Homo sapiens: one gene and its partners. The protein of the gene in region 5 purifies or fractionates together with the protein of the main gene of each other region. This does not show direct contact. Each region holds a gene or a part of one and is shown on either strand. Other genes may lie near its edges. The genes, in order: UPF3B, NOP58, ANKRD22, NOL6, UTP20 and VPS41.

Region 1 (5,227 bases), on a different chromosome or scaffold from region 5:
TACTAAAAATGCTAAAAAAATTAGCCAGGCGTGGCGGTCCACGCCTGTAATCCCAGCTACTTGGGAGGCTGAGGCAGAAGAATCGCTTGAACCTGGGAGGCAGAGGTTGCAGTGAGCTGAGATCACGCCACTGCACTCCAGCCTGGCGACAGAGCGAGACTCTGTCTCAAAATCGAAAAAAAGAAACTTGATACATCTCTTACTTTATATCCAGAAAGGTCCAGTCTATAGGGAAGACACATTTCTACTTTAACACTCTATTATCTGCTACCTACATTTAGCCAGAGAATATCTAAGCTGCCATTTGCCACTTTTCTTTTTGGTTTGCAATTATAGGTAAATAGTGTGTCTTCTTGTTTTGTTTTGTTTTTTTCAATATTACTTCAAAGTTGGTAAAAATTAAATTTTTGTCAGGGACTATGCCAGTAAAAATTGAAGGATTGCCACTGTTTGTCCAACTTTTATTAATCTCCCCAAGCCAGCTATTTTTCCACTCCAACTATTTTATTCCAGTAGATATTTAACTAGATTCTAGTTACTTAGCCTGGAAATCTGAGTTGTGTTTAATTTTTTCCTTTTTTAAAAATCTCTTACATGTAAGTTATGAATCTTGTCAATTTATTGTTTATCTTTTGAGATAGGGTCTCCACCCAGGCTGGAGTGCTGTGGCGCAATCAGAGCTCACTGCAGCCTGGAATTCCTGGACTCAAGCAATCCTCCCACCTCAGCCTCCTGAGTAGCTGGGACTACAGATGTATGTCACCATGCCTGGCTAATTTTCTTTAAATTTTTTATAGAGATGGGGTCTCACTACGTTGCCCAGGCTGGTCTTGAACTCCTGGGCTCAAGTGATTTCCCCCCCCCCACCTCAGCCTCCCAAAGTGCTGGGATTACAGGTGCGAGCCACCATACCCAGCTCAACACCACTTATTAAAGAGACTATCCTTTCCTCATTGTGTTTTTTGTTTGTTTGTTTGTTTTGTTTTGTTTTTAAATCTTAGAGACAAGGTCTGCTTATGTTGCCCAGGCTGGATTTTATTGTTTTTTTTTAATATCTTGTTCACCTAGCCTTAAACAGTCACACTTTATGTCCTCATCACTTAATGCCTAGACAACCACTGTCTCTAAACTTACAGGATTTTCCATTTTTTTCATTCTTGTATAATTCAGTCTATTATATTGCCATGAAATTAATCTTTTTGAAAATAATGATTTAAATTAACAGTTGGGGGAAAAAGTCCAAACTCCTTAGCCTGGTAGTCAGGGTCCTCCATATTCTGGCCTCACTTCTGTTTCTTCAGCCTGTCTTCCACAATTTCCCTCTGTTTCAGTCTGGTTTATCTATTCCTTCTCAAATATATCACAGTTTTGTTTTTTGGTTTTTATTTTTGTTTTTTTTCTTTTTCTTCTCTCTCTCTCTCTTTTTTTTTTTGAGACAGAGTCTTAACTCTGTCGCCCAGGCTGGAGTACAGTGGCACAATCTTGGCTCATTACAACCTCCGCCTCCTGGGTTCAAGCAATTCTCGTTCCTCAGCCTGCCGACTTAGCTGGGATTACAGGTGTGTGCCGCCACGCCCAGCTAATTTTTGTAATTTTAGGAGATGGGGTTTCACCATGTTGGCCAGGCTGGTCTCAAACTCCTGGCCTCAAGCAATCCACCCGCCTCAGCCTCCCAAAGTGCTGGGATTACAGGCGTGAGCCACCATGCCTGGCCTAATATATCACAGTTTTGAAGCTAATCTGATTCTCTACTCACTGGGATTCCCAACATAATTTTTCCTCCATGACTGCTTTGCAGTGCCTTCTGGTCAATTCTGTTTATTTTTATTTTTCTGCTTATGTCTACATGCCAATGATTTAAGGATAGGATACCTTGTTTTTGACATTCTGTGACAGGGTGCTTGTGAATTTTTTTCCCATTAGTCACTTGGGGTTTTTGTATTGAAATATAACTCACCTATAATAAAATTCATCCTCTTAAAGCGTACAATTCAGTGGTTTCTGGTATATTCACAAGGTAGTACAACCATCAGTACTAATTCCAGAATGTTTTCATCCCTCCAAAAAGAAACCCATATCTATTAGTAGTTACCTCCCATTCTCTCCCTCCAGCCCCTGGCAACCACTAATCTACTTTATGTATCTATGATTTCCCTCCATTTCATATAAATGTAATCATACAATATGTGGTCTTTTCTGACTGGCTTCTTTTACCTAGCACAATGTTTTCAAGGTCCATCCATGTTGTAACATATAACATATATCATTACCTCATTCCTTTTGCATTTTTAAAAATTGTAAAAATACACGTAACATAAAATTTACCATCTTAACCATTTTAAGTGTACAGTTCAGTAGCATTAAGGTATATTCACACTGTTGTGCAACAATCTTGGGAACTTTTTCATCTTGAAAAACTGAAACTCTTTACCCATTAAACAACTCCTTATTTCCCTTCCTCCAGCCCCTGGCAACCACCATTATACCTTGTGTCTGTATGAGTTTCACTACTGTAGGTACCACATATAGGTGGAAACATACAGTGTCTGTCTGGCTTATTTCATTTAGCATAATATCTTCAAGGTGTATCCATGTCGTAGCATGTGTCAGAATTTTCATCTTTTTTTTTTTTTTTTTTTTTTTTGAGATGGAGTCTCACTTTGTTGCCCAGGCTGGAATGCAGTGGCGCGATCTCAGCTCACTGCAACCTCCGCTTCCTGGGTTCAAGCAATTCTCCAGCCTCAGCCTCCCAAGTAGCTGGGATTACAGGTACCCACCACCACAGCTGGCTAATTTTTTTGTACTTTTGGTAAAGATGGGGTTTCACTGTGTTGGCCAGGCTAGTTTCAAACTCCTGACCTGAAGTGACATGCCTGCCTCAGCCTCCCAAAATGCTAGGAATTACAGGCATGAGCCACTGCCCCCAGCCTCATTTTTAAGACTAATATTCCAGTATATGTATATACCACATTTTGTGTATCCATTCATCTGTCAAGGGGTATTCGAGTTGCTTCCACTCTTGGCTATTGTGAACAATATTGTTATGAACACAGATGTGCACATATTCGAGTCCTTGTTCTCACTGCTTTTGGATATATACCGAGAAATGGAATTTCTGGAGTCATTTGGTAATTCTATTTTTATTTTATTATTTATTTATTTTGAGACAGAGTCTCTGTCACACAGGCTGGAGTGCAGTGGCATGATCTTGGCTCACTGCAACCTCCACCTCCCAGGTGCAAGCAATTCTCCTGCCTCAGCCTCCCAAGTATCTGGGATTACAGACACCTGCCACCACACCCTGCTAATTTTTTATGTTTGTGGTAGAGACGGAGTTTCACCATGTTGGCCAGGCTGGTCTCAAACTCCTGACCTCAAGTGATGCGCCCACCTCGGCCTCTCAAAGTGCTGAGGTTACAGGTGTGAGCCACTGTGCCCCGCCGGTAGTTCTTTTTTGTTTTGTTTTGTTTTTTTGAGATGGAATTTCGCCCTCATTGCCCAGGCTGGAGTAAGTACAATGGCGCGATCTTCCCTCATTGCAACCTCCACCTCCTGGGTTCAAGCAATTCTCCTGCCTCAGCCTCCTGAGTAGCTGGGATTACAGGTGCCCACCACCACACCCAGCTAATTTTTGTATTTTTAGTAGAGATGGGGTTTTACCATGTTAGTCAGGCTGGCCCAATAATTCTATTTTTAATGTTTTATGGAACTGCCATACTGTTTTCCATGCAGCTGCATCATTTTACATTCCCACCAATACATGAGTGTTCCAGTTTCTCCACATCTTTGCCAACACTTGTTATTTTCTGCTTTTTGATAGTAGTCCTCCTAATAGGCGTGAGATGATACCTCATTGTGGTTTTGATTTGCATTTCCCTAATGACTAGTAATGTGGAACATATTTCCATATGCTTGTTAGCCATTTGTATATTATCTTTGAAGAAATGTCTATTCAAGTCTTTTGACCATTTTTTAAATTGGGTTATTTGGTTTTTTGTTGTTGAGTTATAGGAGTTCTTTATATATTCTCGATATTACCCCTTATCAGATAATATAATTTGCAAATATTTCTCCCATTCCATGGGTTGCCTTTTCACTCTGTTGATTGTGTCTTTTGATGCATAGAAGTTTCTAATTTTGACGTAGTCCAATTTATCTATTTTTTACTTTTTTTAAATAAGAGATATACTTTATATTTTTGTTTTATTGTGGTAAGAACACTTAACATGAGATCTACCCTCTGTATTTTTACTTTTGTTGCCTGTGCTTTTGGTGTCCTGGTGTATTTTTTTTTAAGTGTTAACAGATTTTTCCCCAGCTTTATTGAGCTATAATTGACAAATAAAATAATATATATTTAAATTTTACTATGTAATAATTGTTTTTTCTTTTTTCTTTTTCTTTTTTTTTTTTTTTTTTTACCAGGCTCGAGTGCAGTGGCACAATCTCAGCTTACTGCAACCTCCGCCTCCCAGGTTCAAGTGATTCTCCTGCCTCAGTCTCCCAAGTAGCTGGGATTACAGGCGTGCACTATCACGCCTGGCTAATTTTTGTATTTTTATTTATTTTTATTTTTATGTATTTATTTTTTTGAGACGGAGTCTTACTCTGTCGCCCAGGCTGGAGTGCAGTGGCATGATCTCGGCTCACTGCAATCTCTGCCTCCTGGGTTCAAGTGATTCTCATGCCTCAGCCTCCAGAGTAGCTGGGATTGCAGGCACGTGCCACCACGCCCAGCTAATTTTTGTATTTTTAGTAGAGACAGTGTTTCACCATGTTGGCCAGGCAGGTCTCAAACTTCTGACCTCAGGTGATCCTCTCATCTCGGCCTCCCAAAATGCTGGGATTATAGGCATAAGCCACGGTGCCCAGCCCAACGTGATAATTTTATATATGTATACATTATGAAATGTATACATTATGAAATGTATACATATTGTATACATATATACATTATGAAATGTATACATAATGTATACATATATACATTATGAAATATATACAATCAAGTTAACACATTCATCACCTCACATAACACATCACCTCAAATAGTTACACTTTTAAAAAATAACAGCTTTATTGAGATATAATTCACATGCCTGAAATAGTCACCCTTTTAAAGTATACAGTTCAGTGAATTTTAGTATATTCATAGGCTTATGAGCCTATCACCACAATCTAAATTTAGAACATGTTCATCACCCCTAAGAGAAACCCCACCCATTAG
Region 2 (5,227 bases), on a different chromosome or scaffold from region 5:
TTAAGCACTAGACATAGTTTTAAAAGTGTAACAAATACATAGTTCTTTTTTTTTTTTTTTTTTTGAGATGGAGTTTCACTCTTGTCACCCAGGCAAGCAATGTCACCACTGCTGTGTGCAATGTCACAATCTTGGCTCACTGCAACCTCCACCTCCCGGGTTCAAGCAATTCTCCTGCCTCAGCATCCCGAGTAGCTGGGATTACAGGCTCATGCCACCAAGGTTGGGTAATTTTTGTGTTGTTAATAGAGATGGGGTTTTATTTACCATGTTGGCCAGGCTGGTCTCGAACTCCTGACCTCAGGTGACCCACCCACCTCAGCTTCTCAAAGTGCTGGGATTACAGGCGTGAGCCACCACGCCTGGCCAACAAATACATACTTCTATTAACCCCTGCCATTGCTTACTGCTACAAGTTTAGCTATACCTATGAAAATGGGTAGAGACAATGAAATCATCTGATCTTATAGCTGAGGGCATTTGAATGAAACCTTTGATTAATGATGCAGCTAAAGGAGTTACGCCAGGCCGGGCGCAGTGGCTCACGCCTGTAATCCCAACACTTTGGGAGGCTGAGGTGCGCAGATCACCTGAGGTCAGGAGTTTGAGACCAGCCTGGCCAACATGGCAAAAACCCTGTCTCAACTAAAAATATAAAAATTAGCCAGGCATGGTGGCAGCACATGCCTGTAATCCCAGCAACTTGGGAGCCTGAGGCAGGAGAATTGCTTGAACCTGGGAGGCAGAGGTTGCAGTGAGCCACTGCACTCCAGCCAGTGCAACAGAGTGAAACTCTGTCTCAAACAAAAAAAAAGGAGTTATGCCATTTTAAACACTCTGATGCAGATGATATAATCTTTTTTGATGAATTATAACAATGTCTCCAAGTAACATAAAAATGATGAATCAGTACTTCATTGTATTTGTAGGTATTCAATTACATAGCATTTTAATTATAGCATATCATCCTTATAATACTGCCATACACATATACAAAGTTTTATTATAAATCAGTTGTTGAAAATATTTTTGAAAGTCAAATATATTACATCCTCACACTCAATAGTGAAACTAAGGTAATCAATCAAGGGCACAAATCCTCTACAGTGATTTCTTTTTTTTTTCTTTCTCTACAGTGATTTCTTAAAACTGTATTCAAATCTAGGTCTAGTGAGTTTTTATTATGAAAATGTTAACTGTTTTATCCTCCTGCATTCATCCGATTGTTCTAATTAACCCTAACAAACTTCTAACAATGGACCACAAGTGTCTCAGAAGAGGTAGTGACTAAAGATGCCTTCATTATCCAAAAGGAAATCAGGCAAACAAATAGAAATCATCATTGAACACTTGGCCCTTAGTGATCTCCCACATATCATCTACTTTTGTGTTATCAGCTAAAATTTCTTTAACAGCTGTAGTTTAAAGATGTAAACAAAATCCTAACCAGAAAATACTTCAAACACTCATATTTACAAATTACATTAAAACCATCACCTGCATGAGCAATAAGCCGTGCTCCAACTAATTCCCCAACCATGACTGTAACATTGGGTGCAATGGCCATCATTCGATTTTGTAGATATTCATAGAGCTGGGTTCGATATTCAGAGATTTCAATCACCTAGTATAAGGAATAAAGTTAAGTCACAAATATCATATGAGTAAAAACAGTAAAAATTCCTGTCTAAAACACTGGAGCCCTCAATTATGAAAGAGCAGCTACACAACCCTGGGTACTGGGTACATCACCTATGCCTAACATCAGTTTTCTTTTTTTTTTTTCCCAGGCTGGAGCGCAGTGGCGCAATCTCAGCTCACAGCAATCTCCGCCTCCCGGGCTCAAGTGATTCTCCTGCCTCAGCCTCTGGAGTAGCTGGGACTACAGGGGCCCGCCACCACGCCCAGCTAATTTTTTGTATTTTTAGTAGAGACAGGGTTTCACCATGTTGGCCAGTATGGTCTCTATCTCTTGACCTCATGATCCTAACATCAGTTTTCTATAAGATGGCTGTAATGAGGACTTCGTTATATAATGTATGTAAACTACTTGGTCCACTGCCTGAAAATCTTAGTCAGCGTAACTGTATTTTTAAAAGATTCTAAGCAGCCCAGGCACAGTGACTCACACCTGTAATTCCAGCACTTTGGGAGGTCGAGGCAGGTGGATCATGAGGTCAGGAGTTCAAGACCATCCTGGCCAACATGGTGAAACCCCGTCTCTATGAAAAATACAAAAATTAGCTGGGCATGGTGGCACGTGCTTGTAATCCCAGCTACTCGGGAGGCTGAGGCAGGAGAACCGCTTGAACTGGGACCTGGGAGGCAGAGGTAGCAGTGAGCCTGAGAACGTGCCACTGCACTCCAGCCTGGGCTACAGGGTGAGACTCTGTCTCAAAAAAAAAAAAAAAAAAAAAAAAAAAAAAAAAAAAGATTCTGAGCAATAAACATTTGTATCATGCTCTTTTTAATTCCTATATGGCTACCTTCAAATCTGAAAGAAAAAAAAATCACAAGATATAGACATAAGACTCAGAATTAAAAGGCTCAATCCATAATTGTCTGCCATCCTTTTTTTTTTTTTTTTTTTTTTTGAGATGGAGTTTTGCTCTTGTTGCCCAGGCTGGATGCAATGGTGCCATCTCGGCTCACTGCAACCTCCCCCTCCCTGGTTCAAGCGATTCTCCTGTCTCAGCCTCCCGAGTAGCTGGGATTACAGGTGTACGCCACCACGCGCAGCTAATTTTTGCATTTTTAGTAGAGATGGGGGTTTCATCATATTGGTCAGGCTGGTCTCGAACTCCTGACCTCAGGTCAATCCCTGACTCGGCCTTCCAAAGTGCGGGGATTACAGGCGTGAGCCAACGCGCCTGGCCTTCTCTGCCATCTTAATTGATTTTTGGTTAATTCATTATTCAGACGATGATTGTAAATTACTTCCTTTTAATATGTATTTCCCCCTTTTAAGTATACAAATCATGATGGCATCAGATGAGGTAGTGACTGAACACCCTCATATTTATGTTATCAGGTGAACAACAATAAGTGTAAAAATCATCATTGCCATCAGAAAAATTAGTACTATAGAGCTGGTAACACCACAACTAGATTCTCCAGGAGTAAAATTTACCTGGGTGCAAAGATGCAGAATATTGCAAATATCTTCTTCTGAAACCTCTGTTCCCATTGATATCTCTGCAGCTGCTTTCACTTCTGCTTCAACTTCTTCTGGCAGCAACTCAGAAAGCTTGGCAGAGGCATAGTTCTTCCTATCGCCTATGGAATGTTTGCAGAGGATGAGGGAGAATCACTCTTCAACAAATTATATAAAATCCAGCAAATAGTCAAAAGAAAAAGTAGAAAGCCAATGAAAAGGATGCCTAAACAAAACAAAAAAAATGAAGAAGTTTGACCTAGTATAACAGTTTTCCTCATTTAAGGGTTTAAGTTTAGACATTAAATGTCTCCCCACCACCTTCTTCCAAAAAATAATCAGAGTAAAAAGAGGACAAAATATGCCACAACACTTATTACAGAATATAAGTGGCAAAAATTTAAAAAAGACAGGACTAATAATAATGTCACAGACAATTTTATACTGAAGCTGGGGCCAGTAATTCGTAAGGCAAGTAAACCATCAATCAATCAAGTTCCTCTGTACGTTAACGACAATCAACAATCAAGTTCCTCTGTATATTAACAGTACAGACGGCAATACTGCTATTTAGCATTAGGTACTAATATCATGTTATAGGCCATCAAAATCTAAGTTAAAATTCATTTTGTTTCTTAAATTTAAGACACTAAACTGCTACACTTCCCAAATACACAGAAATTGCAAAAACCCTGGGAATCTTGCTTAACAAAATGCTATACGTCATGTTTTAGGATGCAATCAAATTCATTTACTTTCAATGCCTTAAAGGATGAACAAATTACTCACCAACTTTCTGTAAACACTTGCAGTATGTTAAATTATCTGAAATAATTTTTCCTAATTCAGGGAAATGCCAGCCATACCATTCTCTACATCGCATAATGTAGTTGTTTAGTTCTTTATCCAAGTCATCTAACAAGGCTGTAGTAGATTAAAAACAAACAAACAAAACTTAAAGGGATTTATTGTGGTAAAACATACACAACATAAAATTTAACACTTCAGGCTGGGCACGGTGGCTCATGTCTGTAATCCCAGCAGACAGGCATATCACGAAGTCAGAAGTTCAAGACCAGCCTGGCCAACATGGTGAAACCCCATCTCTATTAAAAATACAAAAATTAGCCAGGCATGGTGGTGCACACCTGTAGTCCCAGCTACTCTGGAGGGCTGAGGCAGAAGAATCACTTGAACACAGGAGGTGGAGGTTGTAGTGAGCCGAGATCGTGCTACTGCATTCCAGCCTGGGTGACAGAGCAAGATTCCGTCGCAAAAAATTTAAAAAAAAAAGAATAAAAAATAACACTTCAACCATTTTCAAGTGTACTATTCAGTAGCATTAAGTATTCTTATGATGTTATGCAACCATTACCAGGATCTATTGCCAGAGCAATTTTATCATCAGAAACTGAAAAATTCTGTACCCATTAAACAGTAACTCATTCCCACCTTCCCCCCAACCTCTAGTTATCTTTATACTTCTGTCTCTGAGTTCACCTATTTTAGGTACTTCATATAAGCAGAATCATGCAGTATTTTGTGACTATTTCACTTAGCATATTTTCAAGGTTTATCATGTTGAAATATGTATCAGAATTTCATTTCTTTTTAAGGCTGACTAACATTCCACTGTGTGAAGTGGCTGGGTGTACGTTACCCAAAATGCTTGGGACCAGAAGTATTTCAGAGTATTTGCAAACACGTATGAGGCTGAGGATGGAACTCGAAGTCTAAATAGGAAATGCATCTACATTTCACATATACCTTATATACAAAACCTTGAAGGTAATTTTACACAATATTTTAAATAATTTTGTGCATAAAACAAAGTTTTGACGTGTGGTCAGGTGTGGAGTTTTCCACTTGTGGATTTGTGTGGTACCACAAAAAGTTTTAGATTTCAGAGCATTTTGAATTTCAGATTAGGGACATTCAAGCTGCATCCACAATGCAGTTTATCCATTCATCTGTTAAAAGGTATCTGGGTTGTTTCCACTGTTTGGTTTTGTAAATAACACTGTTATGAACATAGGTGTACAAGCAACTCAGTTCTGTTTTTAATTCTTTTGG
Region 3 (5,227 bases), on a different chromosome or scaffold from region 5:
AAAAACAGCCATGTGGTTAAGAGTTTTCCTATGAACAAACCACAAAATGGATAATCGTACACATGGTAGATGATTAAGGGATAACTATCAATTTTCATAGTAAATTCAGTCCTAAGTTTATATCTCAGTGTATCTTTTTTTCCAAAAACTAAGTGGGTATAAGAATCTGTCTTCTGATGAGCTCTGCTGTGTACATTTCACCTTTGTTGACTCCCAGGAGCCCTTCCCTAGCTTTTCCTTTACACTGGACCGAGTTCTCTGTTCTGCTCCATGGAAAGCCGCATTCAGTAATCAGATGTATCCCACAGGAAAAGATGCCATGGGTACCGGAAAAACAAAAAGCACAAACTAAACTTTTTGAGATGGCCATCTGAATAAATTTTGAATTGAAATGCTTTATTAGTAAAGAATCCTTTTCTTAATTTTTAGAAAGAGAGAACCTGCTTGCATTATGCTGTGAAGAAAAAATTTACCTTCATTGATTATCTACTAATTATCCTCTTAATGCCTGTTCTGCTTATTGGGTATTTCCTCATGGTGAGTACAACACTTGTAGAGCAAAGGGCAAATGTGGAGATCGATGGTGTGACTCATTGACTCTTGCCAGGCCAGTGAGATGTTGAAAAGAAATAAAAACAAAAAAAGCCTTTGGTTTGTATTCTGTAATTGACATGTTCAACATACATCCAATGCTATAATTGAAGTACAGCAAGAAGAAAGCTAGCAAAAATAGTTAATCAATGGTAACATAATCCATGCAATGTTGATTTAGAAAAATAATTTAACCTTAACTAAGACTTTTCTGAAGGGAGCAAAAAAATTCTGAATATTAAAAAACACCCCTTCTAATATTTTTTTCTCCTTTTTTTAAAAGAGGAGTTTGTGTTTTTGGATTTATCTTTCTGACTTACTGATTTTTAAGTACTCCTCTGGTGGTGTGTTGAAAAACAGATCCTAAAAGTTTGCATCCAGAAGCTGACACACACAGAAGATACTTGTTGAGAATTTAAGCCCATTTTCACCTTGATGAATTTCTTCATGCTTGGATGAATCTTGGCAGACAGCAATTTTCTTGAATAAAGAAAGATGTAGTTGGTATAGAGATGCAGTCATATGAGGAGTAGAAGATGAAGCTTGAGATGGTTTTTGGTTTTTTTTCCCAATAGGGTAACAGATCTGCACTGACTTACTCACTTTTATCCATCTAGTTTCCTTTGTGCCCAGTTCCACTTCTCAGACATGACTCAAGAGATGCATAATTTACTTTAATTAAATGACCAAGCTCCCTCCTTGTTGTAGCTCATAAACTGTGAATATTGGTTACACCTGTTAACATCAGCCGCAGAACAAGTCTGCCCGTCAAAAATGTTATTATTTCATTGGGTATTTAAATGCCACAGAATTTGAGGAACTATAATTAAACATGACAATGTTGATTTTTATATTTGGATTTATAGGAGAGAGAAAAGAACTTTAATTCACTAATAAAAATATAATCTGCTCATATCCTCGAAGAATTCTTTAAAAATTCATTATGTATTTAGCACATAGCATTTAAATACATGTATTTTGGGGGCAGGGAGAATCTGTTATTTATTTACAAACATTTTTAGAGATTCTAAAGGTAAAAATTACAACTGTGATTAGAAGGCTCATTCAGAATTTATTGACACACAACTCTGCTTTCTAAGATGGTTCAATGTTTAGAGGCTGGAGGACTGGGCAAAAATAGTAATCGTAATGAATAGCTCAACTCTAGTTTCATGCACGTGCAATTTATTAATGGGGCCTAAAGTTGTAAATTTGTGATGAATTAACAAATAAGTGACATGAGAGGAAATGATAGGGGAGGAGAGAGGAAAGCATTGGGTTATTTCAGAGAAAAGTAGGCAGAGAAAGGCAGTTTAGGAGGTGACACAAGAGGGAAGCCTAAGGAGAGAGAACTGGATGGAGCTTCCCAGGTGATGACAGGGTTGAACTCCAGGGCTATACCCAGCTGAGCAGGGAGAGCTTTGCCTCTTCAGGAGACTGGAAGTTGGGGAAGACTCCAACAGGCTTGTGGTCAGAAGCTCAGGAGACTGGGAAGGAAAAGTGAATTTCTGAGGAGTCCTAGTTCATTTCATTAATTTGTTCAATTCTTTAACGTATGTTTATTATGGACCTACTATGTGCCAGACGCTGTGCTAGCTGTTAGGGACACAATGATGAACAAAATAGGCATAGTTTTTTACCCCATGAGAGTTAGAGGGTGGTGGGGAGAGTCATTAATCAAATGGCACAAACACATGTAAAATTACCATAAAGCGGGTGATACAGAAAGGCGACTGGTGTTAGGATAGCTAAAAAAGAGGGATTTCACCTGGTCAGGTGGGTCAGGGAAAGCTTCTTAGAGAAAGAGGGACTTGGGCTGATGAATGAAAGGTGAATATGCCAGGCAAAGAAGAGAGGGAGGAGGCTTCTAGGCAGAAGGAACTTCCTGTGCAATGATTCTCTGAGAATGAAAGATTAACAAAGGCCAATGTAAGTAGAACAGAGTGAGCCAGGAGGCGCAGAGTGAGAGAGAGGCCAGGGCAGGGCCATACGTGGAGCCAAAACATACGGGGCTTTGTAGGTCATGCTGAAGAGTTTACTTTTGTCCTCAGAGCAATGGGAAGTAATTGCACAGCTTTGAGCCAGGAAGGGAAAGACAGGTACTAGGCCCCATCCTCAGTGGAATTAGGTAGGTTTGGGGTGGGACCTGAGAAGTACATTTCTAAGGTTCTTAGGTGTCAGTGCCGCTACTTCAGGACCACAGTCTGAGAACCTGGCTTTAATTAATTGATATTAGAGTGAGTGAGAAGCTGGGGGAAATTTTAGGAAGGGTGCATGCATGCATAGGAGTGTTGGGATTAAAATGAAGCCTATTGATTAAATAGTCTCAGGCATAAATTGGAGAAACTATTTGTAAATAAGCCTTTCTTATAATTACCATTTGTAATAGGTATCAAAGACAAAGCAGAATGAGGCTCTTGTACGAATGCTACTTGATGCTGGCGTCGAAGTTAATGCTACAGATTGTGTAAGTTTATACTTTTAGCCATTTTGAAAAAATATTCAAAATGGTATTTGTAGGTAGCGTATTTGTCATCTGTACAGTTGCTTTATTTTCCTAGACAATTTTACATTTAGTTTTCTTTTATTTTCTCCTTTTTTTTCCCACTGACAGGCAACCTTGAGGTTATTTATATTCTGCTGAACTCATGGGAATAATACCTCTATTGATTATAAAGCATTTTTAAAATAATTGGCTTTAATGTTGTTGAGACGTTAAGGAAAACTAAGGCTCCGATAACAAAATACCAGCCATAATAGTTAAGAAGCTGGAGTGAGAATGCCCATGAGTAAACTCTGGGCTTGCCACTTTTTACTTCTATGAGTTTGAGCAAGTTGTAAACTTATTTTACTTTCAGTGTCCTCATCGGTAAAATGGGGATATGGATAATACTTATCTCATTGGGCTTGTTCATGTAAAGCACTTAGCACATGCTCAGAATGTAGTAAGTGCTCATTGAATGGCAACAGCTGCCACTGCAGCCAAAATCCCAACCCACTGATGAGAGGCCCCGTGTGCAAACTACAGATAAATAAGACAAAGGTCAAAGAAAAATCCCACTGATGGTAAGAGCAGTGATAACAACAGTAGCAGCATCCGCTCACTTCTTCCTGTTTATGAGCATAAGGTGTTGTTTTCACTTTCACCTCTGTGCTCTTGCACTCATCTTTCTTTCTCAATGATCACAGAAAGACAAAAGTTTATTTCTATGGTGTTTTGCTTATGGTGATTGAATAAAATTTTGGATTCCCAGTTCCTTATTGAAAAAGTAGGCAAGTGGAAATTTGATTCCAAAATACTAACATTCTATTTGTGATGCCTAACATATTTTACGTGTGTGCACATCTGTGTGTATTACCATTGTTTTATGATAGAGACCATGGCCCCATTCCTGTTTCTATCAATTATTTACATCATTTCGGTTTTGCCTATGCTGGTATCATGTTTAAATGCAGGCAGTTGTGTGTGTGTGTGTGTGTGTGTGTGTGTGTGAGAGAGAGAGAGAGAGAGAGAGAGAGCAAAAGAAAATAACTTTATGAAATTTATATTCCCTTTTATTTCAAATAGAACTTTTGGATAAATTTGTATTGACAGTTACTGTGCATTACCATTTCTTTAGATAGCTTTGAAATATATTAAGTAAGAGATTATTAAAGATGAAGTTAAAAGTTTGTTGAAGGTTTTTCTTGGTCTTTTCATTTAAATTCAATAGATTTAATATTCCTGCCTGTGACCAAAATTTCTCTAGGATATTTTCTCAGCAATTTATGTGTATTTCTCTCTCTAGATAGAGATATTGCATTCCTTCAGCTAGGCACAGTGACACTAGCCTGTAGTCCCAGCTACTTGGAAGGCTGAGATGGGAGGATCCCTTGAACTCAGGAGTTTGAGACACATGCAGGTACACACACAGACACCACTTCTAATACCAAAATTTTTTCAAAAACTATCTGAGTATTAAAATCTACTTTCTAGGTAAGACAGTGTTTTGTATTTTTGGATAATTAGACTCTATTTCACATGACAAAATTCAGAGCCAGAACTTCCATTTGTCATGCCACCACTTAATAAAAATAAATAATTGCAACATGATCTCCTATAATTTTAGAGGTGTTTCTAGGGAATGGGATCCAGAGCTAAACCTGTCTTGATAGCCAAAGGTACTATTTCTTCACTCACCAGCACCATGGTTGCTTGGCTACTTTTCCAAAGGCCAAATTTTGGACACTAATGCCCTAGCTATAATTTTTTTGACCTGTAGTGTTTTAAATTAGTACCAACAGAGTAGATGCACTAGCTTATAACACATAATATAAGCTATAACAAATCACGTTTGGGAAATGTCTCTGTAGAACTGCACTGATCTTGCAGGTGTCCTGCAGCAAGAGCACCCGACTTCTTCAGTAGGAATCATCACCAAAACCATAGAGGATAATGTTTATGTAAAGGGCCATGTGGAGACTCTTTAAGGGAAAGATGGTGACATGATCAAGGTGATGATCACCGAGGCATATAGCATGCGACAAAGAAACTTTGGCACAATTCAGCATCAGCTTTTTTAAGTTGCATTCTTTAGAACAGAAAATGGAAAACAAAAAGGCAGAGATTGATGGCTTATATGACACTAACATACAT
Region 4 (5,227 bases), on a different chromosome or scaffold from region 5:
TGGCGGGTCCTGTCTCTTCGGGGCTACAGTGGTGGGGCAAAGGTCTTCAGACAGGTGCTCAGATCATTCAGGGAGGAGGTGGTACTAGGGGCCAGCAACCTGATTACCCCTCTTTGGCCCTTTGTACCCCTCCAGTCTCCGTCCACTGAGTCGCCTGCAGGCAGCGTGCCACCGGCTGAAGCTCTGGCCAGAGCTGCAGGACAATGGTGGGGACTATGTCTCAGCTGCTTTGGGCCCCCTGACCACCCTCCTGGAGCAGGGCCTGGGGGCTCGGCTGAACCTGCTGGCTCACTCTCGACCCCCAGTCCCAGAGGTGAGGTGGTGTAGGTTGGGGAGTTTGGGTCTGAGTTGGGCTGGATCCAGGGTCCCAAGAGACACAAAGGACACACCATTCCTCCAGCTAGGCGTTTCTAGCTAGCTAGAAAGTAGGTTTCTAGGCCAGGCTGGAGGATTGGAGGACTGAGCTCAGCCTTTTGAAATCCTGCAGTGGGACATCAGCCAAGATCCACCAAAGCACAAAGACTCTGGGACCCTGACCCTGGGACTCCTTCTCCGGCCTGAGGGACTGACCAGCGTCCTTGAGCTGGGTCCAGAGGCAGACCAGCCTGAGGTGGGGGACCCCAGCATGTACACTGGAAGGAATGGGGTGGCTCGTCCTCATGGCACCTGGACTGAAGCTTGTTGGGGAGGGTCCACAGAGCCCTTCCTTCCCCAGCTCTACTACCACCCTTGCCTCCTCAGGCTGCTAAATTCCGCCAGTTCTGGGGATCCCGCTCGGAGCTTCGGCGTTTCCAGGACGGAGCCATTCGGGAAGCTGTGGTCTGGGAGGCAGCCTCTATGTCCCAGAAGCGCCTTATTCCCCACCAGGTGGTCACCCACCTCTTGGCACTGTGAGTGTTGGCATCTGGATTCCAGAAGGCAGTGTGGGCTGGGGAGCCTTTTCAGGGGTCTGGCCCAGGCAGTTGAGCGAGAACATAGCCCCAAATTTTCTCACTGTGTCTCTGCCTCTTTTTCAGCCATGCTGACATCCCAGAAACCTGTGTCCACTATGTGGGGGGCCCCCTGGATGCACTTATCCAAGGCCTGAAAGAGGTAAGGGTCTTGGGGTCAAGGCTAGTGATTGTAGAGTAATCAATCTGCGGGGAGAGAGTCCTCTCAGCCTTGGCCAGCTTGCACTTCCTGGCATGTCCAGCAGGCGGCGGTGCTGGCTCTGCTGCAGCCTGAGCTGGGGCAGAATCCAGGTGAAGCTGGCCTTCTGTAGGGTCCAGCCTCCTGACCGTCTTCTCCCTCTCAGACCTCCAGCACAGGTGAGGAGGCCCTGGTAGCGGCGGTACGTTGCTACGACGACCTCAGTCGCCTACTGTGGGGGCTAGAGGGTCTCCCACTGACCGTGTCTGCTGTTCAGGGAGCTCACCCAGTGCTGCGCTACACAGAGGTGAGGTGCAACGGTGCAGGTGACCTTTCTGCTTAGTGGCCCCACCTCTGCTCCAGTCACCCAGTATTCCCCACTTCCAACTCCTGACTCTGGGCACTCCCTCCCAGTCCTAGGCCCATTCCTCAGCCCCTCTTCTTCCACAGGTGTTCCCACCAACTCCAGTCCGTCCAGCCTTCTCCTTCTATGAGACTCTGCGGGAGCGGTCCTCACTGCTGCCCCGGCTCGATAAGCCCTGTCCGGCCTACGTGGAGCCCATGACCGGTAAGAGGGCCCTTGGGAGGGAGTGGGAGGGATAGTTCCAGCTCCAGGCCACAGTATGAGACCTCTGACTCTTCTTCCTCAGTGGTTTGTCACCTGGAGGGCAGTGGCCAGTGGCCACAGGACGCTGAGGCCGTGCAGCGGGTCCGAGCTGCCTTCCAGCTGCGCCTGGCAGAGCTGTTGACACAACAGCATGGTCTGCAGTGCCGTGCCACTGCCACGCACACGGATGTCCTTAAGGTTAGGCTGGTGCAGGCAGATATGTCCCCAGGGAAGGGGGGCACCAGGGATGTCAGGGCGTGGAAGAAGACACCCCTGTGGGTACCACGCTGGGTAATAGGGCTGTAGGCCACAGAGTACTCCCGGGGTTCTGGGCTGACACATCCTTCTCTTTCCATACCTTCTTCCAACAGGATGGATTTGTGTTTCGGATTCGCGTGGCCTATCAGCGGGAGCCCCAGATCCTGAAGGAGGTGCAGAGCCCAGAGGGGATGATCTCGCTGAGGGACACAGCTGCCTCCCTCCGCCTTGAGAGAGACACAAGGCAGTTGCCACTGCTCACCAGTGCCCTGCACGGGTAAGGCCACTGACACAGCTTCTTCCTGTCTGTAGGCCCCCTCCTGCCCCCATTCTCCTCACCTAGCCACCTGTCTCTCCAGGGGCCAGATGGTATCATAGTTAGGGGTATGAGTTCTGGAGTCAGGCAGGTTCTGGAATCCTGGCTCTGCCACTTACTGACTGTGACCCTATGGTCAGATTTTCCTCCTTGGTCCCTATATTTGTCATCTGTAAAATGGAAATAACACTAGGGTCAACTTCTTGGTGCATTTCTTAAGAGAATATGAGATTACATATGTAACCTATTATCACTGAGGCTGGCCTTGGGTAGGGGCTGGATGAACAGTGGCAGTGGGGCCCTGAGTCTCGCTGACACTCCCCTTCTCTCTGCAGACTGCAGCAGCAGCACCCAGCCTTCTCTGGTGTGGCACGGCTGGCCAAGCGGTGGGTGCGTGCCCAGCTTCTTGGTGAGGGTTTCGCTGATGAGAGCCTGGATCTGGTGGCCGCTGCCCTTTTCCTGCACCCTGAGCCCTTCACCCCTCCGAGGTGATTCCCTCCACTTTTTCCCCAGCTGAGAAGTTTCCTTGCGGCCAGCCATCATCCTTCGTGCTGCACCCTAAGTCTACATGGGAATGGGTGGTTGAGCAAGTGGCAGAAGGGGTTCTAAGATGCCCTGCCCTGCCAATCCACACCAGGGGGTCTGAGCTCCATAGCCTGAGAGAAGCCTGGGGATATGTGGCTGGGCCCTGGATTCTTTGCTTACTCCAGCCCTTTAGTTCCCCCCAGGTTGGCTTCCTTCGATTCCTTTTCTTGGTATCAACGTTTGATTGGAAGAACAACCCCCTCTTTGTCAACCTCAATAATGAGCTCACTGGTAAGTGGTAGAACAGGGGTCAGACTGCTGGAAGAACAGCTCTTTATGGATTGCAGGCAAGGGTTTCCCTGGCAGTGTTAGGTTTTCTCTGTGCCTCCCCAGCCCCAGATGTCTAAGCCTGACATGAAGAAGAGGTCCAGGTGAACAGCCTGACCATTATGACATGGTTTGCTCTTAATTGTCAGAGACAGAATGATAGGGTGGTAAGCAAGCTACCTGGCGGGGGGCTGTGGAAGGAAGAGGAGAATAGAAGGGGGATCCTGAATACCACGTAAGAAGTATTAGGGCACGGAGCTAGGAAGTGTAGCACAGATACTCAGACCTCTTGGTGGGGGTGGGAGTGGTGATTTCTGGTTGTAACGTGAGGCACTCGGTCTCTGCAGAGAGCAGGGTGTCAGGTTCCTAATTCCCCAGGTGTGTGGAAGCCCATGGTGGGAGGGGGCCAGGGGCAAGACTCAGCTTGTGCAGGCCCGGAAACCAGACTGGGGGTGCCAAGCAGTGGAAAATTTTGCCTCTGGGCTGAGGTTGGGCGATTAATGCCCCACCCAGTTGAGGCAAATGCGATGTCCCTTTCGTCACCTTTGCCACTTGGTGGGGGGGAGTGTTGAAAAATACCTGTGATGAGCAGCCGTTGGGGGCACCGTAGGAGGACCTGGGGGAGTAGAGGGTGTCTTACAGGGAGGAGCAGGCTGACCCAGGACCCATTCTTGTCTCTAGTGGAGGAGCAGGTGGAGATCCGCAGTGGCTTCCTGGCAGCTCGGGCACAGCTCCCCGTCATGGTCATTGTTACCCCCCAAGACCGCAAAAACTCTGTGTGGACACAGGATGGACCCTCAGCCCAGGTTCAACCCCATACCTGCCCCCTAATGTGTGGTTTTCTTCCCAAGGAAAAAGCAGGCCCAGCCTGACCTGGGAGAGACCCACTTCAGTTCCAGTCTGATGTGTCTGTACCCCGCAGATCCTGCAGCAGCTTGTGGTCCTGGCAGCTGAAGCCCTGCCCATGTTAGAGAAGCAGCTCATGGATCCCCGGGGACCTGGGGACATCAGGGTAAGCTTCTGACCAGCAGTGACTCCAGGGCCTCTGGGGATTCTGTCTTTGGAAGTTCAGCGTTCAGGGATCTCACAGGAGACCCGGTCCCCTTGTTTGGTGAGACTGAACAGAGGAGGTGTTGAAGCTGCTGTGGTGCCTGGGGTGGCAGAGCCTGGGGAACCTGGGTTCCATCTGGGTCTCCTGTTTCTAGCCTGTGCTCCTTCTGCCGGGCTATGCAACAGCTGTTTGCTCTGTGGGTCTTGGTGCTTCAGTCTTCAAATGGGCAGGTGGGCCCATAGAGGGTGGTCAGATGGAAGGAGGAAACCAAGGTGGGCGTGTGGAGAGGTTTGTGGTCCAGTTCCTCAGTCAAGGGGGTCCTGCTGACCCCTCCTTCTCCCCTTCCTTAGACAGTGTTCCGGCCGCCCTTGGACATTTACGACGTGCTGATTCGCCTGTCTCCTCGCCATATCCCGCGGCACCGCCAGGCTGTGGACTCGCCAGCTGCCTCCTTCTGCCGGGGCCTGCTCAGCCAGCCGGGGCCCTCATCCCTGATGCCCGTGCTGGGCTATGATCCTCCTCAGCTCTATCTGACGCAGCTCAGGGTTGGTCCTAAACAGCTGAATGACCTGGGGAGGGGACTTCCAGGTGAAGCTGAGGCTGTGGAGGAGCTCTTAAATGCCTGCCTATAATCTTCTCTGTTCTGTCCCTTTCTAGGAGGCCTTTGGGGATCTGGCCCTTTTCTTCTATGACCAGCATGGTGGAGAGGTGATTGGTGTCCTCTGGAAGCCCACCAGCTTCCAGCCGCAGCCCTTCAAGGTGTGCTGGCTGGTGACAGCTGTGTTCCTGAGTGTGTGCACGTGGTTCTGTGTGGGCATGCATGTCTGTGTGTAGTCTGTCCTATGGGCAAACCCGTGTCAGGTGCGGAGTGTATGGGCTTGTGTTTCTATCCCCACCACCCCCACTCTGTACCCAGCTTGGTGTCTCTGGGTGTGCCGCTGTGACACTCAACCCACATCTCTTCTCTGATTTCCCCAGGCCTCCAGCACAAAGGGGCGCATGGTGATGTCTCGAG
Region 5 (5,227 bases):
GTTCTAGGACTGTAAGCAGGGGAATGAATGACATGATCAGGTTTAAATTTTCAATCTCTCTGGCTTTAGTGTGGAGAAAAGAGCAGGACTGCAGTTCTTCATCATGTCATGATTCCTCTGCTAGCCTTTTAAGGTCCTGTGTAACATGCCTTTAACTTGGAGATCCAATCTCAGTTGTCCAGTTGTGAGGATTTGACTGTTATCTAAGTAAGAAATGATTATGGTAGCAGCAATCAAGATAGAGAGAAGAGAAAGATTCCAGAGATGTTGAGGAAGTAGAATGAATGGATAGGACTTGTGACCTACTGGGTTTGCAGCAAGGAAGATAATGAGGTTAAGGCTGAATGGTTGAGGATGTTACTCATCAAGATATATTTATAGGTAAAGGAGCACAAGGTTGTAAAGATAAGATAATTAGTTCCATTTGGGGCTTGAATTTGAAATACCTTTGGCCATCCAAATGATAGTGTCCAAAAGATGTTTGTATATATGGATCTGGAGTATAGGTGACTTCAGAGGTGAAATTACAGATTTGGCATTTAGAATATGATTAATAATTTAAGCCACAGGAGAGGTTGAAGGTATCAAGAGGCAGTGTTAAGAAGGCAGAGAAGACAGCCTGAAATTAGAATCCTGGACTGGATGGTCCAGAATGGCCTCTGTCACGTGTCTGGCAGTTGGCTGTGGCTTGTTGATCTTGGTTCTTTTCATGGCCTCTTATTCCCCAATAAGCTAGACTAGGCTTCTTTTCATGGTGGCAGAATCTTTTCAATAGAGTGAAGGCAGAAGCTGTCAAGACCTCATAAAGTTTTGCTTTGGTCATGAGAGTCACTTTCATCGCATGTTATTAGTCAAAGCAAGTCAGGAGGCCAGGCCAGATTCAAAGGGTGAGGAAACAGACTCCGTCTCTTGGTGAAAGGAGCTCCAGAGTTACCTTGCAAAAGGACGTGACATGGTCTCTCACACATAGCTGACATACGCCAGGTCTGTGCTAGGCTAGAAATGCGTTCTGCATTTAAGTTTTAAACTGTGTTGCATATTTTCTTTCTGCCTTAAAGGACATGAAAATGCCTTAAAGGACATGAAAACAACAACAAAAAAATTTTAATATTTTTACTTTTGAAAAATAGAGATAGGATCTCGTGTTGTTGCCTAGGCTAGTCTCAAACTCCTGGGCTCAAATGCTCTTCCTGCCTCAGCCTCCCACTGTTGGGATTACAGGCATGAGCCATTGTCCCCAGCCTAAAACAAAATTTAATGGGATTCTCTTTCTTTTCTGCCTTTTTTTTTAATTTTTAGTTTTTAATATTTGTGGTTACATAGTATCTATTCTGCCTAACTATTGATTTTAAAGATTTCCAAAGAACAGTTTAAGGATTTTTTTTTTTGATATTGTAGATTTGGCATGCTGTTTGCATGTGTGCTTATGTGTTTATTCTCTCTTTTTTCTCTCTCTCTATAAACACATATTTGTATTTATTTTTATTTTTATTTCAACTTTGATTTTAGATACAGGGGGTACCTGTGCAGGTTTGTTACATGGGAATATTGTGTGATGCTGAGGTTTGGAGTATGGATCCTGTCACCCAGGTAGTGAGCATAGTACCCCACAGGTAGTTTTTTTTAACCCATCCCCACTTCCTCCACCCTCTAGTAATCCACAGTGTTCATTGTTCTTATATTTATGTCTATGTGTACTCAATATTTAGCTCCCACTTATAAGTCAGAACATGCAGTTTTTGGTTTTCTGTTCCTATGTTAATTTGCTTAGTATTATGGACTCCAGCTGTATCCATGTTGCTGCAAAGGACACGATTTCATTCTTTTTTAAGGCATATAATATTCCATGGTGTATATGTACTATATTTTCTTTATCCAATCTACTGTTGATGGACACCTGGGACAATTCAATGTCTTTGCTATTGTGGATAGTGTAGAGATAAACATACGAAGGCATGTATCTTTTTGGTAGAATGATTGTTTTGGGGGGGTATGCATTTATTTATACATCTATATACACACATACGTACATGTATACATACATGTCATACATGTATGATAATTTATTGGCTTTACCTTTCAAAGTACAAAGTAATTGATACCATGTTAACAAGTTAAGTAACATAGTGGTAAACTTACGAAAAGCCCATTATCTCACTCCTCCCACCCCTAATTCCCAAGGAAGCCAACACTGACAGTTCAGTATAGTTGTATTCTTCCATACTGTCCTCTCATGTTCGTATGTACAAACATTTATAGAGGGTTTTTTATTTTTGTTTTTTAAGGAAAATTGAATCCTGCCATACCCTCTCACTGCATAACTTTTATCATTTTGGGGGCATATCTTCAGTGTAGTTCTAGTTCAATAGAGATATAGCTCTTTTTAGTAGCCACATAATATACCTTAGTATATATAGACCATGGGCTATTCCAACCATTTTCCTATTGTCGGATATTTTAGCCTGTTTAATGTTTCCCCACACTGTAGTTAAGCTGAATAAACATCTTTTACTTAAAGGCTTGCAAACTTTATAAGAACTACCTGGGTCAAAGAGCGTAACTATTTTGAATTTTAACAGGAATGCCATATTACTTCTTTATAAGGTTGTAGTAATTCATATTTCTAAAAGCAGAATGAAGGAACTGTAAAGAACCAACACCTTATTCTTTGCCTAAAATTATAAAAAAACACAGAAAATAATTTTCCCTTAGTGGACAATATATATAGGCCCCAGAAAATTATTTGCTGAAACCAAATCAACAAAACAGCATTTTATAAGTGGCCTATTGATAACTTCTGATTGCTTTTTAGTGTGTTACTTAATGGCCTGTTTTAAAAAACTAAAAGGAGTTCTTAAACTCTTCAGTATCATTGTCTTAAGATATTAATATATCATTATTCTATTTACCTTGATCATTGCTTTCTTAGAGTTATTTGATTAATGGACTGCTTTAATCTTGACAGGAGGTTGAAACCTACTTTTTTGAGGGTCTGCTGAAATGGAGAGAATTAAACCTCACAGAACACTTCGGTATTTTCTATTTCGTTTCTATTTTATTCACCCATAGTTTGCACTTTATATGTTCCATACAGCTGAATAGTGGTGTGATAGAAAAGAACATATTTTTTTTTCCCCCACTCAGGAAAATTTTACAAAGAAGTTATTGACAAATGCCAATCATTCAATCAGTTGGTGTATCACCAAAACGAGATAGTTCAGAGTTTGAAGACTCACCTGCAAGTTAAGAACAGTTTTGCCTATCAACCCCTTTTGGAGTAAGTAGCATCTTGAGAGAAAGCTCACAACTATATTTGCCTGAATTTTAAGAAAGATTGTGTTTCAAAGCTACATATACCGCAGATCAGGTGCTCATAATTTAGAAACAAGGAGGATTTTCCTTTTCTGTTAGGAATAAGTGCATTACCATAAAGTGGAATCTTGGGGTATAATTTCGCATTTGTTATATACTAAGATAATCTCATTTTTCTTTGACACTATAGGAACAGTTGGCTACAACTTATGATGGAATGTAACTTCTTGCCTGATTTCTTTGCTGAGATCTTAAGATTTAAAGAATTTTATAATTTTTCAGACTTGATTTAGAAGTATTTTTATTTAATTAATCCTATGATCATAGGCCACCTACTATCGTTAAGTAGATTTGTAGCCTTTTAAAAAAATCCACATGATCAGTTGCTTCTTTTTTTAATCCAGTTTGGTTGTACAGTTGGCACGAGATCTGCAGATGGATTTCTACCCACACTTTCCAGAGTTTTTTTTGACTATCACCTCGATCCTGGAGACTCAGGACACAGAGTTGTTAGAATGGGCTTTCACCTCGTTATCATATCTTTATAAGTACCTGTGGAGACTGATGGTGAAGGACATGTCCAGTATATACAGGTAACCCCTTTCTCTCTCTAGTATGTTTTTTAATTGCCTGCTTCTTTTTCCCTGGCTTCTTTATGACTCCAAACCACTTTGCCAGCTCAGTGCCTAATTGTTTCCATGTACAAAGTTGATTCTCCAGCCAAAGTGGTCCACAATCTAGTCTGCCAGTCTGAGTTGCCATGACCATCTCTCCTCTCCAGCTACTGGAAGTATACCCACCCAAGAAGGCCTGACTCGGTCCCTACAGCCTCCACAAACAGGCACCTTTGCCAGAAGTATTAATAAAATTTTGTACTCTCTATCCTCTTGGCATTTTTTAACCACCTATGTCACACAACTTTTACCAGAATTGTTTGGTTATAATGTATTGCTGTCCTCTCTACACCTGGTATAAGGGAGGTTTAAGACAGGTTAAGAGCCCTGTTTTAAACACTGACATTTCCCCAGCCACTAATACTTACTAAGGTGAAAGAGACACTCAGTATTTGTGAGTAAATGTGGACAAGGAAAGAGAATGAATTTTGTAGTAACCTTTTGTTTAAAGTAAGCATAAATTGTCTTATTATCTGTTTAAGTCTGGGGTTTGGTGGGATTTTCCACTTGGTCTTCCGGTTGTTTTCATGTTCTATAATTGCCACAGGAGTGTTTAATATCAGTCATCAGCCCCTTACCCCACAGTAAATGGTGTATGCATGGTATGGGACAATAGACTTTGTTTTATGCCACCCGTTTCACTCAGCCCACCGTTCTCTTTTAGGAACTTTGAATGAAGAAAGAGAAAGAAATCTTTTTCCAGCCTTTACTAGTTCCCTATGAAGCTTTTGGTCAAATATGTTAGAAACCAATATTATTTCATTAAACAACCAACAAGGTCTTTGGGGAATAATTGATTTAGTTTTATGACTTCAGCTGTCATAAAAGCTGCCACTTTTATGTCTCCTAAGTCAGGCTCTTCAGTTCTAAATTTATTTGCTTTCGGTGTGACAACTTCAGTAGCCTGGCTATTTTCACTTGTATTACTGAAACTGAACTCAACACTTTCCTGTTAAATCAACTCCTCTTATCTGTACATTCATTCAAGTGTTCAGTAAATAGGTATTGAGTGTCTGCCGTATGCCAGGCCCTGTTTGGTTGCCCATTTTCTGTCATTAATACTAACGTTCTTCCTGTCTCTGAGTTTTGGAATATCAGAGGCATCACTAACCCAGTTGTCTTCAGAGGTGTCCACATCCTCTTGATTCTGTCATTCATGCATTTGCTCAGTCAATATTTATTGGACACTGTCTGTATGTCAGGCACTTGAGATACAGTCACAGATAAAACAGATAAAAAAT
Region 6 (5,227 bases), on a different chromosome or scaffold from region 5:
CATTTGTGAAGAACTGCATTTTCAAATGCATCTCAATCTGAAGCCTATGTGTTTTGCACACTACTAAAATGGTGCTTTGCTATAACTTCCCAAATACAAAACATCTTGACTGCCCATATCCTAGCCCCCCGCCCTCCGATGTCTCGGATACCTTCACACCTTCTCATGAGACTCTCAGTAGTTATGGAGAGCATCTCTTTACCAGTATATCAAGAAAATGAGCTTTTCTTCCAGCTACTTCAACCTCGACCTAGTCTCCCTATGAGACTCCACAGACAGAAGGAGCTGGTTTTATGAGGAGAAGGGAATAAGAGTCAGAAAGAGAATGAGATACCTGAAGTTTCATAATGACATAAAGCTTTTGGACTTTCAGAATTTACTTTAGCCACTTTTATCATTCAGGAAACACAAACTAGACAGTTTATGTCAAGAGGAAGAGGGAAAGCAGCACACCAGACTGAGCCTCACACGGAACACCTGGGGGCCCTGTTCTAGACTCTGCTACGACCTAGCTGTCTGCTCCAAATGTTACTTTTGTTCTCTGAAATACGAGGGTGTTGGAGTAGATTATCCCTAAGGTCTCTTCTAACCAGAAGACTCTGATTCCTTACATCTGGATCACATTCTAGAATAGCAATTAGTTTCAGCTCATTCATCTTTTTTCCACAGGAACATATGCAAAACGAGCTCTGGAGAACAATGGAAGGGGGTGCATGAGGGGAGACTAGATATGAGGAAAATGTAATTAATTTTTACATAAGCATCTCATCCTCTGCCAGACAAGCAGAGCCTCTCTACCTGAACTTCCTTGGAGCTACGTAATTCTTCGTAAATCTGTAGTCCCTAAAGACTTGACTCAGTATTTTAAAAAGGGCTAAAGCATCTTTGAGAAAAAGACGTAGCTCTAGCTCCTATCTAAATTAAGTTTAAGTTGGTGGAGATTAATATAGCACACAATATCTCTAAATACAGTACAATATAATTGAAAAATGCATTAATCCTTTTGGAGCCTTTAGGGTTCTACTTTTAGGTTTATCTAAAATTTCAATTTTTTGAATAAGAACACTGTTTTATAAACCTCATTATTTCTGTCATGAGCACTTGTAATTAGATTTCTTTTACACACACACACACACACACACACACACACACACACAGCTTGCATCACTTTGCAAGCACCAATGTGAGCTGTGGCTGGGTCCACTCATTAGGGGGCGTAAATTTATTATTAGGTTATTCAAATTTGTCACACAATAAAATAACATTCCACATGTCCTGGACATGAGCATCACCTCAAACCAGGGGAAACCCCACATGCTGGATACGTGAACACCAAGAAATAAAATAGTAATAAGTCGGTCAAGATGGAAGTTCACTTAATTTTAAAATTCTGGAAAACAGGTTAGGAGGGATAAATGAGTCAAAGTATATACGTGGTTTGTTTCTATAAATTATATGAATTGTTTTAGCAAGAAATTACTTTATATGCGCACACACACAACTTTAAAAGTTCTCTATCAACTTTGAATTGCTTTCACAGAATAACTACATTATGAAAAGGATTCCTGAATGCCAAACAACTAGAATAACAACATCTAGCGAGGGTCAGAGTGTTCTAAAGATTGTCGGCATAAAGCCAAGTTATGTGATTCATTCACCAATCCAGCATTTGGATAGATATCTAAGTATTAAATATTTGGAATAGTAAAAATAATTGACAGTACTAAAATAAAAAGCACATTACCTCTGAATCAAAATCCATTAATAAAACAATTTTATCCTTGATAGAACTGAAAAGATTATGCTTGTGGATCAACTGAAAAACGTCTTTATGTCTTAATGTTAAGTATATTTCCAGAGCATTGCCATAGTTCTTGTCATAGGTGTACCTGGTAATACAAATTTTTTACATTAATATTCATCAACAGTTCTAATTAAAACACACACAGAGAGATCATGGTTCACAATATTAAAAATGGAAACACTCCTTTAGAGAGAAAAGTTAACTTTATTTCAAAAAATATTCCTATTTTTGAATAGGATTTAACTATACACGACCAATAAGTATTTCTTTCTCAGAACTTTGCCTCTCATGTTGCCAAAATTTAAGAAAATTCACAATATTCAAGTAATAAAAATGGTCTTTATTGGGGGTCTCAGTCTCAAAAGTTTTACAAACATCCATACAGCAAAGAAACTAGGATCCAGGATGAAGTTCTCATTTTAGTAACAGAAACATCCGTTCCAATTCTTACAAGCAGTATTCAGCTGACAAATGGCTAATATTCCAAAAGCTGATTTTAAGGGGGCTGTGTCTAACTGAAATGTGTTTTTCCATTGAAACAATGTTTTTCACATTAAGTCCCTAAGTCAGCTCTTGAGAGCTCACTGAACTGAAGCTGTACTGTTGGTCCATTACGAACGTGCTGCAGACTCTAAGGGGTATCTAACAGGACAACGTTTCCAAGAGAAAATGATTAGCATTTCAACTTAGAATGCCATAAACACAACCTCCTCTTGTGGAAAATCCAACACGTCCAGAGTTCTAGGTCATTTTGGTATACCTTTTTTGGTTTTGGGCAAAAGAAGAAAAAACAAGGGAGAGGAGTGGCCTGAGGTGATGGGGGCACTGAGGAGAGGTGGATGCAGGGATGGTCGTCTTGGCTAGACCTGCAGTATACTTCTTGTTTCCCTAGATCGAAGTACTTGAGAGCATATCTTATCTATCTCTGTATCATAAGCGTCTCGCACAAAGCCTGCATCACTGAATGTGCCCAAGAAATATGAAAAATATTAACCAAGCTGCCATTTTCTGAGCCCTGACTCAGGGTCAGGGAGTCCTCTATTATGACATCTCTTTTAAAGTTTAAAATTTTCCCATAAGGAATTGACATTTGAGAGATTAAATTAACTGACTTGAAGACCCTAGAAGAGCAGAATCCAGAGCCTTGCTCATTGGGAAACTGTTATGCTTGAGTGATCTAAAACTTGGCACCCTTTTGTTTCCTAACCACTGCCTCTCCCAAGCGCTGTGCGTTAGGGGTTCTCTTCTCTGGGAAACAGATTACATTGCAATTGTACAGTTTCACACATGTCCTTATCGCCTACTCATTTGAGGTTTATGAGAGGTTTTTACTAAGAAGGAATGTAGGAAAATGGTATAAAATACATCTTCTCCACTTGGAGTTTGCCAAATCTAAAGTATGAAAAACTTTTCAACACAGACTGATATGGAAAAAGAAACACTTAAGTATACTCACAATTCTGCCAGGGTTTTAAGTAAAGTCTTGTTCTGACTATCTTTCTTCAAATGATCCCGAACTGCTTGAACTATGACTGAATTATTATACAGATCTCCAGGCCATTCTCGGATCAATGTGGCAAAACCCTAACCAAAGGTGAAAAACAGAAAAAGAACACTCATTCAACAGAATAATAGTTGTGATATTGTGAAATATACATTTGGTCCTCCTTCTGTTTCCTGGCATATAACTCTCAAAATCCTTAGAATCTCTAAAATGATGTGTCTTCTTGTATGCTAATGAGCTGACTGGTGGCTAGCAGCCCCTAGGTAACTTAAGGATGGGGTTGGGCACAGGATAGACTGAGACAGGATTAAAGGGTTGGAACTTTTCAGCCCTACCCCCACCCCTGCCCCACAACCTCCAAGGAGGGGAGAGGGGCTGAAGGTTACACCGATCACCAATGGCCCAGTGTTTAAATCAATCATGTCTAAGTAATGAAGCTTTCATTAAAACCCAAAAGGAGTGGCTTTGGAGGGCTCCCCAAGAGCTGAACACCTGGAGGTTCCTGGAGGGTGGTGCACCCAAAGAGGACCTGGAAGCTCCATGCCTCTTCCCACATACCTTGCCCTCTGCATCTAATCCATTTGGCTGTTCATCTGTATCCTTTGCAATATTCTTTATAATAAACCAGTAAATGTAAGTAAAGTGTTCCCCTGAGTTCTATGAGCTGCTCTAGCAAATGAGTCAAATCTAAGGAGGTGGTAGTGGGAATTCCAGTTTATAGTTGACCAGTCGGAAGTACAGGTGACAGCCTATAACTTGTGATTGGTATGTCTGAAGTGGGGGCAGTCTTGTGGGCCTGAGCCCTCAGCCTGCAGGAACTGATGCTATCTTCATGTAGACAGTGTCAGAATGAACTGAATTAGAGGACATCCAGCTGGTGTCCACTGCAGAACTAATTGCTTTCTTGGTGTGTAGCGGAAAAACCCAGATATTTGGTCACAGAAGTGTTGTGTTGTGAGAGTATAGCATGAGAAACTGAGTTTGGTTTCTCCTAAATTCTCAAAACAAACCAAACAATTTAAACCATCCCTAAAAGTATTCACTTTTAGTCACATAACAGACCAAACAATTATATGATTAAAAGTTTGTTCAATAAATATTTCATCAATTTTCAGACTATGGGTCTGGGTGTGGTGAAGAGTTGCAGGGAATATTATTGTACAATAAATCTCCATTTAGCATTCCTGGGAGGCAGGTCGTGCCATCTACTTCTGTCCTTAGTTTTACGAAATGTACAACTAAGAAAGCTATCTTGTTCCTTCTATAAAGTGCATGGACAAGAGTTTAGGTTGGACTTGCCCCATCCCCATTCTGGACTAACTGTAACATTTGGATGACAGCTTTAACAGCTTACAGATATTACCCAAGTCAGCTACTTTCCCCACCACCAAGAGTCCTCTAATGCACTTAGGCCTGGGCTGCTGGGTGCAACTGGTTATGCAGTTGTGCACTGTATAGCCAGCACAACTGACCGTGGCAGTCTGCTTGGGACAGGGCTGCTCCCACAGTGAAACTGTCCAGCATTCTATATCTTTAACAAGTCACCATCTTGGTCCTCCTTCCACTTTGGCTTCTAATGCCAGTTTTATGTTGGAATTTGAGACTTTGGCTCAAGTCTTATCCCCTGGCTCTTATCCTGGCTATCTCTAGATCTCAAATTTTGTGGTTCCCCGATTTGATCCTGTTTCCGTCCCACAGCTGATTCTGGGCCAGTATCTTGCTCAGTCTCTACTCCCTGATTCCCGACTTTAGACTTCATGTTTTATAACTCAAAGTATGACAGAGCAGTTTACTTACTGATCCTTGACAATGTTTAGAACAAAAACATGTTCATAAGACAGTAAAGAGAATTAAAAACATCCACGTTATTAAATGTGAAAGGAAAATAAATTCTCAGGACCTCCAATTCACTAAGCCAA

What was found.
Region 1: the proteins of UTP20 (region 5) and UPF3B fractionate together in Homo sapiens (co-fractionation; one large-scale study listed by BioGRID). This does not show direct contact.
Region 2: the proteins of UTP20 (region 5) and NOP58 fractionate together in Homo sapiens (co-fractionation; one large-scale study listed by BioGRID). This does not show direct contact.
Region 3: the proteins of UTP20 (region 5) and ANKRD22 purify together in Homo sapiens (co-immunoprecipitation; one large-scale study listed by IntAct). This does not show direct contact.
Region 4: the proteins of UTP20 (region 5) and NOL6 fractionate together in Homo sapiens (co-fractionation; one large-scale study listed by BioGRID). This does not show direct contact.
Region 6: the proteins of UTP20 (region 5) and VPS41 fractionate together in Homo sapiens (co-fractionation; one large-scale study listed by BioGRID). This does not show direct contact.

What each region holds. Positions count from the first base shown.
Region 1 is NC_000023.11:119,845,699-119,850,925, reverse strand, and holds part of UPF3B (regulator of nonsense transcripts 3B), read left to right. Parts: intron 1-5,227. UniProt on the Homo sapiens protein: Involved in nonsense-mediated decay (NMD) of mRNAs containing premature stop codons by associating with the nuclear exon junction complex (EJC) and serving as link between the EJC core and NMD machinery.
Region 2 is NC_000002.12:202,289,174-202,294,400, reverse strand, and holds part of NOP58 (nucleolar protein 58), read right to left. Parts: intron 4,079-5,227; coding exon 3,944-4,078; intron 3,277-3,943; coding exon 3,131-3,276; intron 3,085-3,130; exon of another isoform or gene 2,973-3,084; intron 1,625-2,972; coding exon 1,498-1,624; intron 1,351-1,497; exon of another isoform or gene 1,267-1,350; intron 1-1,266. UniProt on the Homo sapiens protein: Required for the biogenesis of box C/D snoRNAs such as U3, U8 and U14 snoRNAs. Part of the small subunit (SSU) processome, first precursor of the small eukaryotic ribosomal subunit.
Region 3 is NC_000010.11:88,823,869-88,829,095, reverse strand, and holds part of ANKRD22 (ankyrin repeat domain-containing protein 22), read left to right. Parts: intron 1-429; coding exon 430-537; intron 538-2,980; coding exon 2,981-3,058; intron 3,059-5,227.
Region 4 is NC_000009.12:33,462,777-33,468,003, reverse strand, and holds part of NOL6 (nucleolar protein 6), read left to right. Parts: intron 1-68; exon of another isoform or gene 69-135; coding exon 136-313; intron 314-487; coding exon 488-610; intron 611-741; coding exon 742-890; intron 891-1,016; coding exon 1,017-1,092; intron 1,093-1,294; coding exon 1,295-1,435; intron 1,436-1,578; coding exon 1,579-1,696; intron 1,697-1,778; coding exon 1,779-1,933; intron 1,934-2,106; coding exon 2,107-2,270; intron 2,271-2,644; coding exon 2,645-2,797; intron 2,798-3,027; coding exon 3,028-3,125; intron 3,126-3,842; coding exon 3,843-3,967; intron 3,968-4,083; coding exon 4,084-4,173; intron 4,174-4,562; coding exon 4,563-4,757; intron 4,758-4,869; coding exon 4,870-4,971; intron 4,972-5,190; coding exon 5,191-5,227. UniProt on the Homo sapiens protein: Part of the small subunit (SSU) processome, first precursor of the small eukaryotic ribosomal subunit.
Region 5 is NC_000012.12:101,282,605-101,287,831, forward strand, and holds part of UTP20 (small subunit processome component 20 homolog), read left to right. Parts: intron 1-2,965; coding exon 2,966-3,032; intron 3,033-3,144; coding exon 3,145-3,277; intron 3,278-3,716; coding exon 3,717-3,905; intron 3,906-5,227. UniProt on the Homo sapiens protein: Part of the small subunit (SSU) processome, first precursor of the small eukaryotic ribosomal subunit.
Region 6 is NC_000007.14:38,755,094-38,760,320, forward strand, and holds part of VPS41 (vacuolar protein sorting-associated protein 41 homolog), read right to left. Parts: intron 3,389-5,227; coding exon 3,261-3,388; intron 1,890-3,260; coding exon 1,745-1,889; intron 1-1,744. UniProt on the Homo sapiens protein: Plays a role in vesicle-mediated protein trafficking to lysosomal compartments including the endocytic membrane transport and autophagic pathways. Acts as a component of the HOPS endosomal tethering complex.